Linked DNA regions of Homo sapiens. The protein of the gene in region 1 interacts with the protein of each later gene in a pairwise test. Each region holds a gene or a part of one and is shown on either strand. Other genes may lie near its edges. The genes, in order: DBH, OTUD7B and LPIN1.

What was found.
Region 2: the proteins of DBH (region 1) and OTUD7B interact in binary tests that used the Homo sapiens proteins (3 or more experiments, as listed by UniProt).
Region 3: the proteins of DBH (region 1) and LPIN1 interact in binary tests that used the Homo sapiens proteins (3 or more experiments, as listed by UniProt).

Annotation. Positions count from the first base shown.
Region 1 is NC_000009.12:133,639,243-133,642,989, forward strand, and holds part of DBH (dopamine beta-hydroxylase precursor), read left to right. Parts: intron 1-603; coding exon 604-750; intron 751-2,964; coding exon 2,965-3,222; intron 3,223-3,747. UniProt on the Homo sapiens protein: Catalyzes the hydroxylation of dopamine to noradrenaline (also known as norepinephrine), and is thus vital for regulation of these neurotransmitters.
Region 2 is NC_000001.11:149,941,005-149,944,751, reverse strand, and holds part of OTUD7B (OTU domain-containing protein 7B), read left to right. Parts: coding exon 1-895; 3' UTR 896-3,747. UniProt on the Homo sapiens protein: Negative regulator of the non-canonical NF-kappa-B pathway that acts by mediating deubiquitination of TRAF3, an inhibitor of the NF-kappa-B pathway, thereby acting as a negative regulator of B-cell responses.
Region 3 is NC_000002.12:11,777,613-11,781,359, reverse strand, and holds part of LPIN1 (phosphatidate phosphatase LPIN1), read right to left. Parts: intron 1,842-3,747; coding exon 1,715-1,841; intron 1-1,714. UniProt on the Homo sapiens protein: Acts as a magnesium-dependent phosphatidate phosphatase enzyme which catalyzes the conversion of phosphatidic acid to diacylglycerol during triglyceride, phosphatidylcholine and phosphatidylethanolamine biosynthesis and therefore controls the metabolism of fatty acids at different levels.

The DNA.
Region 1 (3,747 bases):
AAATCCAAAATTACATGTATTTATAAAGTAATAAAGCAGTGCTTGTTCTCAGGGTTGTGCCAGTGCAGGGTGGGCACCTGCTATCAATCACCATCTTAGATGTGGCACCCTGGTTTCTCTCTCCTTTCCTGTTCATGTCCCACCCTGTTCCCAACTCTCCCCTTTCTGAGGCTCCGCAACTCTCCTGCCTGCATGAATGTGGGCAGCATTGGTCTGAGGCATTGTTCCCAGTCTTGAGGAGGCCTTGGGAGCCTCAGGCATCTTCTTAAGAAGCTCAGTGTCCCGCCCGCCAGGCCCGGGAATGCCCATGGCTAACAGAACCTGTGACCTGCTGGCAAGTGACAGCCCTGGTTCCTGGCTGCAGAGGAGGAACCAACTCCACTGTCGGGGCTCATCTCCACTGTCTCCAGGCAGAAATGGAGATAGAAGGTGTGAGTGAAGCCACAGCCCCAGGCAGAACCCTCAGATCCACAGGGACTGAGGCCCAGCATCCCCAGATCAGCTGGCAATGAATGCGGAGCTCTGCCGGGGAATGCCCTCTTCCCCTGTGGATTGGCCCGGCTTGGCTCCTTCATGCCTGGAGCCCAGTGCTTGTCTCTGCAGGACGCCTGGAGTGACCAGAAGGGGCAGATCCACCTGGATCCCCAGCAGGACTACCAGCTGCTGCAGGTGCAGAGGACCCCAGAAGGCCTGACCCTGCTTTTCAAGAGGCCCTTTGGCACCTGCGACCCCAAGGATTACCTCATTGAAGTAAGGGGTGGCCGCGAGTACCCAGGAGGGCGTGGGCTGCGTGTATCATGCTGCCATCCTGTGCCAATGTCATAGTACCTTTCCTGTCCCTGATAAGTCTGGGGCCTGGGCCTGGCCAGCTATGACAGAGAGAAAGCCAAGGAGGATGGCCAGAGGCAGTGGTGGGGCCAAAGCACTTAGGATGGTCCAGCTCTGCTATTGCCCCTGAGCCCTCAAAGACGCAGCTCTTTGCCAACACGTAGCTGACATGGTTTCTAGATGCGGGGCTTGTGCTGAAGCCTCTCCCATTGGACTAGACCTTGCTTCTGGATGTCTCTCTCCTCCTGGTCCTGTTAACCATCAGGTGGGATTCTGGAGCCCAGGCGACCTGGCTTTCCATCCCGGCCCTGTTGCCAGCTCGCTGTGAGGCTCGGGACAACTGCCCCCCTCCTCTGGACCTCACTTTGCCCATCTGTAAAATGGAGATGGGAACTAGATGATCTGTATGGCCTGACCAACTCTGGGAGTTCATGGGAGCCATAAAACATTGTAAAAGCCATAGGCTTCTTATGCTGCTCTAAGAGCCCCCCAACCTCTTAGGGAAAGCAACCCACCTTGCCCTTGAAGACAAAACTCTTTTAACTCTAGCACACCTGACAGCTTTTGTCTTGTGTAAGTAATCCTTTGGTGTGGCAGTGGCCTGGGCTGGCCGTTAGTGCCAGGTCTTAATCATGGGTGTAGCTGAGTGACCACACGGGAGGCCAGTGCCATCGAAAGATTGATTGCATTTCCGGAGAGAAGGGGCACCTGTGCCGTGCAGGGCCACCTGCAGAGCCCTGGGTTTGGTCAGGAGGCAGATGCAGGAGCTAGGGGAGAGCCCAGGCCTGAGGCTTTCTTGGGGTTTCCATGGGAAAGGCCAGGCAGGGCAGGGAAGTTGCTTCATTTGGACAATTCTGGTGGGCTCTGGGTGGCCGGGGTGGTCTCTAGTTGCCTGGTTCCTGGCCCTAGGGTGATTTAGGGCTGAGGCAATATTGGCCTGGTGTGTGACAGTCAGGTGGAGGAGGTGGCTAAGGATATGGGCTTGGGACGGGTTGGAGGGTTGGGAATATGATTCTCACACAAGCGTGAATGTTGGAGGGAAGGGCAGGTGTAAACAACTCTGGCCATCTGTTTGAGCCTGCAATCCATTAATAGATGCCAAATAGACAAATACGGAATCTAAGAAAACAGAACAGCTGGCTGTTTGCCAGATGAGGAAACTAAGGCCCGGAGACGGGGAGTGGATGTACCCAGGGGTTCGGGGTGTGCTGGGGCAGACCTGGTGCCAGAAGAGGTGTTCTTCCAGGAGGTTGTTGAGCCCTTACCCTGCTTCCCAGTGGACGAGGCAAGGGTGAGCAGAGAACCCTCTGGAAGCACCTCACAGGGGGAGGCCAATGCCTGTGTGTGCTCAGCCCAGTGGCCCCAGGCCAGGTATAGGGGCCTTTGCCTGGAGTTCTGGGCGTCCCCTGCACAGGGCGGCCCATCGGCTTTCCGCAAACTCAAAGAGCAAATTAGCCACCCACACGGGTCTGCACTGTGGAGTGCCCAGAAAGCTATGAAAGGCACTTTCCACACCCGATCCCCGTTTCCATTCATGACAGCATGTGAGGAAGCCAGCCCCACAGCTTGCCTCCTGAGTCTGCCTGTGGCCTCCAGCACCGCGTAGATCCATGGAGCTTTCTGTGGCTGCTTGGTCCCCTCCTGCCAAGCTGGTGGTGACTACATAATATAGCGTGGCTCCGCAGCTCAGCGTGACCATCAGCAAGCCCCAGGGTGTTTCCTTCCCTTCATAGAGGGCACTGAATCCTCAGGCTGGGCTGCTGAACTGACCAATGATCCCCCACACCCAGTCCCCAGTGACCTTGGGGTTGGTGGAGGGAACAAATGTTCCGGCCACACTGGCTCACGGCGGGCCCAGTAGTCACTGGTTGAATGGATGTTAAGTGAATGTAGGTGGAATGTGTTTAGAAGAGAAAAGTATTTGATGGCCGGTGCAAATAGGGGATCCTGGGGGTCGTCAGCCCGGGATTTGGCCCCAGCCAGGGCCATGCAAGCCTCAAGGGTCCCTTATTCACAGAGATGAGAGTGAGGTGTGTCACCTGGTAGGTGTGGGTGGGCAGGGATGTGGCATCCTCTCAGGAGCCCAACTCTGGGGGCTCTGAGAGGGCGACCAGCTGAACCCTGTCTCGGCTGCAGGACGGCACTGTCCACTTGGTCTACGGGATCCTGGAGGAGCCGTTCCGGTCACTGGAGGCCATCAACGGCTCGGGCCTGCAGATGGGGCTGCAGAGGGTGCAGCTCCTGAAGCCCAATATCCCCGAACCGGAGTTGCCCTCAGACGCGTGCACCATGGAGGTCCAAGCTCCCAATATCCAGATCCCCAGCCAGGAGACCACGTACTGGTGCTACATTAAGGAGCTTCCAAAGGGCTTCTCTCGGCACCACATTATCAAGGTACGTGCGGGTCCAGGGCCGAGGTCCTCGCCCAGCCCTGCCTTCCTCCCGGGCCTGGGTTGTCCCTGACCCTGGAGAGCTGTCCACAGTCCTGGTTGGACCAGGTGTCCTCTTATCACTGGAACCTCAGGCACCTGCCTGAGCAGGGGAGCAGCAAGTGGTCTTGGCTTCCCCATCACTCTGCTCACTCCCCTACCCTCAAAGGGCCTTGGAGCTCCCACTTCCCTGCCTGGACCAAAGTGACCAACATCTTGACTTCTGCATCTTTCCTTGGGACTGGAACTGCTGTCTGTCTGCCAGGCCACCTCCCCCTTCATGAAAAAGCAGCTCGAGTCAGAACTCACTTGCTCTCGAACACCCGTCCGGGGAAGACAGAATAGCAAAGGCGATAGCTGTCGAGTGTCCACTATGCCACTAGTCCCGGGGGAGGGGCGAGGTGATCCCTCCTTCATCATAAGAGCCCCTAGTTTCCAGCAGAGGAAGTGTGGCCCAGGGAGGTTGAGTGTCCAGGGTCACATAGCAAGA
Region 2 (3,747 bases), on another chromosome or scaffold:
GACACTGGAGAAGAAGAAGAAAAACTCACTGAAGAGCTGGAAGGGTGGCAAGGAGGAGGCAGCTGGGGATGGGCCTGTGTCTGAGAAGCCCCCAGCTGAGTCTGTTGGTAACGGAGGGAGCAAGTATAGCCAGGAGGTGATGCAGAGCCTGAGCATTCTGAGGACTGCCATGCAAGGGGAGGGGAAGTTTATTTTTGTTGGAACCCTGAAGATGGGTCACCGTCACCAGTATCAGGAGGAAATGATCCAGCGCTACCTTTCTGATGCTGAGGAGAGATTCCTGGCAGAACAGAAGCAGAAGGAGGCAGAGAGGAAGATCATGAATGGAGGAATAGGGGGTGGCCCTCCTCCAGCCAAAAAGCCAGAGCCAGATGCTAGGGAAGAGCAGCCGACCGGTCCCCCAGCAGAGTCCAGGGCAATGGCATTTTCCACTGGCTACCCTGGGGACTTTACTATCCCTCGGCCGTCTGGGGGCGGAGTCCACTGCCAGGAACCCCGGAGGCAGTTGGCAGGGGGTCCATGTGTCGGGGGCCTACCACCATATGCCACCTTCCCCAGACAGTGCCCTCCTGGGCGACCCTACCCCCACCAGGACAGCATCCCTTCTCTGGAGCCAGGCAGCCACTCTAAGGATGGACTTCACAGGGGTGCCTTGTTACCACCCCCCTACCGAGTGGCTGATTCCTATAGCAATGGCTACAGAGAGCCCCCTGAGCCAGATGGATGGGCTGGAGGTCTCCGGGGCCTTCCCCCAACTCAGACCAAATGCAAACAACCGAACTGCAGCTTCTATGGACACCCTGAGACAAACAACTTCTGTTCCTGTTGTTACAGGGAAGAACTGAGGAGGAGGGAGCGGGAACCGGATGGGGAGCTCCTGGTGCACAGGTTCTGAACGGGTGGAACACTGAAGGGCAAGGAGGCTAAACAAAGTTAAGCTCAACTAATTGGCTCATCAAGAACACAGTCCCCATGTTGAGGGGGAAAATGCAGTAATGTTTGTGGGAGCCTGGCTGGAAACTTTTAAGTGTGTGCACACAGGAGTGCTGCCAGGCTGGCAAGAGCAGGTCGGGGCTGGATGGCACCTCAGGGGCTGTACTATTCCTCTGCAGAGCTTGACTTGATGAGGTTTGAGGTACAAGGGGAAAAGATGGCGATTCTGTCTTATAACCTCCTGGGTCCCATCCAGGGACCTAAGAGAAAGTAGCAGGGGAAGGTTTGGTGTGTGGGGGTGGGAGGTGGGCAGAAGTCTTGGGGAGGAATGGGCAAAGGAGGTTCTCAGTCAATAAAACCAAAGTTCTTTAGGTTGGGAAAAAGCACATGGTGGAGTGAGAAGTGTGGAGGGGAAGTGGGAAATTGGACACATTTGCTATTGATTTGAATTAAGCTAGAAATTAAGGTTGGATAAATTCTTCCCCTTGAAGGATCTGGAAAGACAAGGCAGTAATGTGTCCTCATGGGTGCCTGTTAGGAGGTGGGGGTAGTTTAAATCCGTTTGTTTAGATGGGAAAGGGAGGAACTTAAGAGGGAAATCCTTTTCCTCTTAAGGTTTATTTCCTTCCAAGCAGTCATATGTCATCTGTTACAGTTTGAGAAGAGATTGCTGATTACCCCCTGTCTTTTCCTCATCTAAGTCTTTAATTGTATTTGTTTAAAGGGAAGAGTGTGGTGAGAACAGCCGTCATGTGTGTTGCATTTTCTCCAGGTGAATTGGGGCAGAGCTGATCTATTTTTTAACCACAGCAATAACCATACGTTGGGGTTTGAGTGCACCTTGGGAGGGGTGGGAGGACAGACATTTTAGCCAGAGGCTGTTTCAAACAAAACCAAAAACCTAAGTAGAGCATTACAGGCCTCTGTGGCTGCTGCGTTTCTGTAGAAAGCAACTTATTTTATTGACTTTTTTTTTTAAGGAAAAGAAATAAAAAGACCCCAGCAAGCAAAAACATTTAAAAAATGATTTTTTTTCCTCCTACTTAAGTGGTTCTTTCTCCCTTTGCTCTACTTTTGGAGAATGAACTTAACATCCCGGCTTCTTTTGTTAAGCCATAGCTGACCTTAATCTGTGGTTAGTTTATTAAAATAATTAAAAATACTTTCTAAGAAGAGATATTTTTGATATTAGGACTGATGTTGAAACATATAGGGGCAATTTATAAAAAGGTAGTTAGAGAAATATATTTTAGTGAACTATAACCACAGAGCACAGATGACTCCCAATGAGCTGATCTGTCTTTAGGTTTCTCCCTTTCCCTGACCCTTCCCTGTTCTCTAGGGGCTGGGAGTGGGGATGCGGACACAGTAGGGGGAGCTCCTTCGCATTTTGCACAAAGCACAAGTCTGAACAGCCTATGCTCTGGCCAGAGCCATTTCTAAGAGCTTTAAACCGGAAGACCTATCCTGGGCCAATTTTCCTTTTTCTTTATATTTTTTTCCGGGAAAAAAAGTCAACTATGCAATTGTATACACTCCCGGGTGCATGTGAAGAAGGGGAATAAGTGTACTTATGTGTCCAGAGTATTAACTGGGGCTGTTTTTCTGTGTTTGGATTTCTCTTTTGAGGTATGTACTCATAACCCATCCCTTGGAACGTAATCCCCACATTTGATCTAAAGCACTTGAGCGTGCATGCATGTGCGTGCGTGCATATGTGTGTGTGTTTTCCTCCTCGGTAGCCAGTCAAGATTGTCCTTGTTGGAAATGCTCACGGTTTATAAAGGTTATTTTCTCCTCAACAAACTCAGAAGTCACCTATTTTCCAAATCTGATTTAATAATTTCCTATGGCTATTAATTCTTAGGGTTTTCTTTGAAAATAGATTTGTGTTAAGGAAGCAGTGAGATTCCAAAGGAAGGGATGTGTATATGTCTAGGCAGGTCTGGAACCTGGTATGAGATGAGCACTCCCCTAAGTTGCAAAATTTAAGGGTTACTATAAAACTCATTAATCAAGATACTATAAAAAATGCAGTATTTAAAAAAATTAATGCAAAAAATTTATGTTGGATAAAATAGCGAAATCTTACAGGATCTGACAGGACTGAGATTAGGAGGAGGGAAGTGAGGCTGAATTGAATAAGTATGGGGATGAATCCTTCTTATTTAAATTTTTGATACATTGTCCATCATAGACTTTTTACATTAATTGTGATTTTTTAAAAATGTTGCATTAAAATAGTATTTATCTTGGTTACTGGGTTTTTTGGCACTCCTTAAATTTTGTGCCCAAGGTGAGTGCTTTGCTCACCTCACCCTAGTTACGTCCCTGTTTCTGTGATTTGAACACTAGCGAGAACACCACTGTGTGCGCCTCCACCCCCATCACACACCAAACAACAGGTGGCTCAGACACCCTGAATTTGCACAGCTCACCTAGCTTTCCTAATTTAGGCCTTCATATCATAGAATGGTGGCCTGGACCAATAGGAATGAAAACAGACCAGGGGTTTTCCCAGAGAATAAAGCCGGAAAAGTTTTGATTCTCCACTGGACTGCTGTGTTTGGATTTGATCTGTTGTTAGATTCTAGTTAACACTTTTGTTTTTAAAAACTAAGGACAAATGAACAAAAAACCTTGTATCATGTTTGTTTTTATTTATAAGTTAGCCAATCCCAATTCCGTTTGCTTTATTTTCAAATAAAAAAAGATGGAAATTTTGAGGGGTGGTCTAGGGGTGAATATGGTAAAATGGGGCTTTAGGCCTTATAGCTTTTTATTAAGAAATAAATTATTTTTTTTATTTGGGAG
Region 3 (3,747 bases), on another chromosome or scaffold:
GATTTGCACTTCCATGCTGTTTCTCCAGCAACTAACGACATAAACTTGCAAAGAGAGTTGGCTGGGTCAGCACCATAGCTGTGGACAGGTAAATCAGCATTTTCTATGAAATCTAAATATAACCTAGAGAGGAAATGGATCCACAACTTTGGCCTCAACAGACTACTCTCCAAAAAGCTGCCCATCTTGACTCTTTATAAGGGATGTTTTCAATAGTCATTCACTCACTCACTCACTCATTCATTCATATTACAAACATTTATTGGGGATGCAAGAGGCTATAGCATCTTCTAAGGACCTTACAATATTTTTTAAAGCTTGTGATATAATAACATAATTCAAGATGCTTATAATACATTAGCATACCAAATAAAATTTCTTGAAAGAAAAGATTGTGTTCATTTCATGTTTTTAGAAACATATTTGCTGAACCAGTTATGTACCTACATGTAAACCCACTGCATATCCAAGATAGGGAAACTGGGGCTCAGCGTGCATGTACCACAGCCAAGGAGAAAGAATGCAAATATTCAGAGGGCCTACAGGTGCCAGATACTTCACATACCTACATTAGCCCTTCTAACCTCACAACAATTCTGTCATTTTCTCACAGTTTTACAGATGAAGACACTGAGGTTCAGGGAAGTCTACTCATTTGCCCAAGGTCACCTTTTTAGCAAGCGGTGCAGTGAGGACTCAAACCCAGAATAACCTGCTGCCTCCCAGGCCCTCATTCTCTCCGCTACCCTCAGCTGCTTCTCTATTTATTTTGGAGATCTCCATAGGGTCAAATTCAGGGTCCCACCAACAATGAGGGCCCAGAAATACTTACTACTTGATGAATCAAAACCTTAAGGTTTTCTGACTTTGTTTATCTATTAGGCTGAAATCTTTCATTTCTGTTCTATTAGCCTTTCCCTCTCCCAGGGCTCTCCCAGATGTCTCTCTGTGTGAGGGACACAAGAACATGTGGATTCCAGCTCTTACAACTCAGCTTCTTTTTCAATGGGCCAAGAGTCCACAACTCTCTCCCTGTGGCTTTGCTCCACTCATCAATGACCTAGCAGACTCAAGAGCTGGAAGCTATTTTTGTTTACAGTTTCAAGACAGCAAGATTGTGTGTAAGTTGTATTTCTTTAATTTAATTTGCATTTAGCTGTGATAGAAAATGTAGATCCTGGCTGGGCACGGCAGCTCACGCTTATAATCCCAGCACTTTGGGAGGCAGAGGCAGGCGGGTCACTTGAGGTCAGCAGTTCAAGACCAGCCTGGCCAACACGGTGAAACCCCGTCTCTACTAAAAATACAAAAATTAGTGGGGCGTGGTGGCATGCGCCTGTAATCCCAGCTACTCGGGAGGCTGAAGCAGGAGAATCGCTTGAACCTGGGAGGCAGAGGTTGCAGTGAGCCAAGATAGAGCCATTGCCCTCCAGCCCGGGTGACAGAGTGAGACTCTGTCTCAAGAAAAAAAAAAAAAAGTAAATCCTAAGAGGAATCCCATAGGTTTAAAATCTACAAAAGCAATGAGACCTCTCTATAATGTTGGTAACGTGGAAGAAAGTAATTCCAACATTCAAGGCTAACCCTTAATATATTTTGGTTTACCTCTGGCTCCTGGTAGCTGTGTTTCTTGGCTATGCTATGATACTAATTCCATGTAATTTAAGCTGAGTTAGAAATCTTCGGTCCGTGGCAGAATTGAAGAGACTCTCACCTTAGCAGCCTGCGGCAGCTCTCCCCACAGCCAAAGCATTTCTGGGTTCTTCTGCCCTGTCCTTTCCGTGGACTTGCTGACCAATTCTGAATCACTTTTAGGTGTTGAAGGTCGGGAACCGGAAGGACTTAAGGAAAACACAAAGCGAAAATTAAGGTGGGAAAAGAAACTTTTGTAAATGTTTTGGGCCCAGCTCCATGGCTCAAATAGCCCAGAAAATGCACCCCCAGCTGTCGTTCGCTCTGAGCGGAGCCTCATGACAAATCCCTCCTCCGGCCACCAGGGGGCAGGGAAGCGCCTCCCATGGAAGGCGCTCCACGTGGGTCGCCCGCCCCACCCTGCCGCCTGGTGCACCGCGGGGGAGAGGAGAAAAAGAAGTGGCCCAGAATACAAAAGAAAGAGATGGAAAGAGAAAGGGAAAAATAGTCTGTTCTTACCTCAAAAAGACCACCCTTCCCCACCCCACTCTGCACTCGCATCTCCTGCAATCTGTTTCCAAATCAAGTTCCTCTGCTGTCAGAGGGCTGCAAAAGGGTCTTGGTTGGCTCGGGCAGGCACTCATTAGAGTCCATATTTTAAATATTTATCATCTGCACTGGCCTGGGAAACAGGGAAATTATATGATGTGCCAATTTTACCAAAGATGCTGGATGCCACAAATAAACTCGATAACGTTGGGCAGGAGCCTACAAGTTGAAATTTTCTAAGATCTTATGTCTTCCAGGAATACTTCACAAGGGACTCACCAACTGGTTAAGGCTCGCTCAGTAACCACCTCCATGTTTCCTGAATTTTTACTCTGAAGACCCAAACAAGGTCTTACTTCTGCCCAGCCAAAGTAACCATCCAAAAGTCATTAACTTATCCACAAGATCCTCACCATATTCTAAACAACTTAGAGAAATATTATTTACAGCAGCAATTCTTGTAATTATTTATTGCCGCATAATAACATGGTTAATTATTGCTTATTTTCCCACATCATTTCCTCTAGAGGAAGGCGGCAGGGTTTTTCAGACAAAGCAGGAAATAAAGCTTTCAGTTTCCCTTGCCGTCTTCTTTCCCAGACCTTATCTATTCTTCGGAAACTGATGCTTCTGGTCTCATTTACCTAGAGTTCAACTCCAATTGAATATAACTTTCCTGTCAATACAAGGTGAGTTCATGATGATACATAACTTGTATCCAACAAACAGGGACCTTGTGGGCTAAACTGATCCTGAATCTCTTTGATCAAGCTGCATAGAGCAGCCAGACCAAGTGCCATCTCTCTCATCTCACACCAAGGGGCAGAGGGTGGTCCCTGCTCCCTTGGTGCCCATGACTCCCAGCCCTTCTAATGACGTGCTGCCACGGGGCAGCCTGCACGCTCTCTTTCGCCTGCCTGGGGAGAGGAGGCTCCTGACATCACATTAGGAGAGCTTCTGCAATGGGACACCCTGCTCCCAACAGACACACATTTCTGCCCTTTAGGGAGCAGTCCTATAAGAAGGCACGTGGGCCCCCCCACGTCCATGTGGGAAAGGCTCCTGGCCTTTCAACCTCCTTGCTCTTCCAGTTCCACAACTGGACTTCTCCAAAGAGACAACGCTTTGGTGGCACTGAAGCGTCTACAGTCACGTGTTCGGTATCACTGCAATGGGAAAAGCGCAGGCTGTGGCCTCCAGCGAGGGGCCTCAGTACCTACAAGTGTGACCGCAATCCACTCTTTCTCCAGCATCATCATGGAATAAGTCCATCAAAACCAACTTCTCACCCTCAACGGTGCTGTTCCCAAACCTCAAAGTATCTAAAAAGCTCTTGCCATTCTGTTTCACCAGACAAAATAGAACATATTTGGCTATAAGTTCTTTGCAGCAATAAATTATCTCACTGTCACTAAATGAAATAAAGTCCTTTAGACAAAGCTTGCTCCGAACAGGGGTCGGCAAACATTTTCTGTAAAGAGCCCAGTGGCAGATATCTCGGGCTTTACGGGTTTTACGACGTCTGTCGCAACCACTCGCTGCTGTGGTGGTGTGAAAGCAGCCACA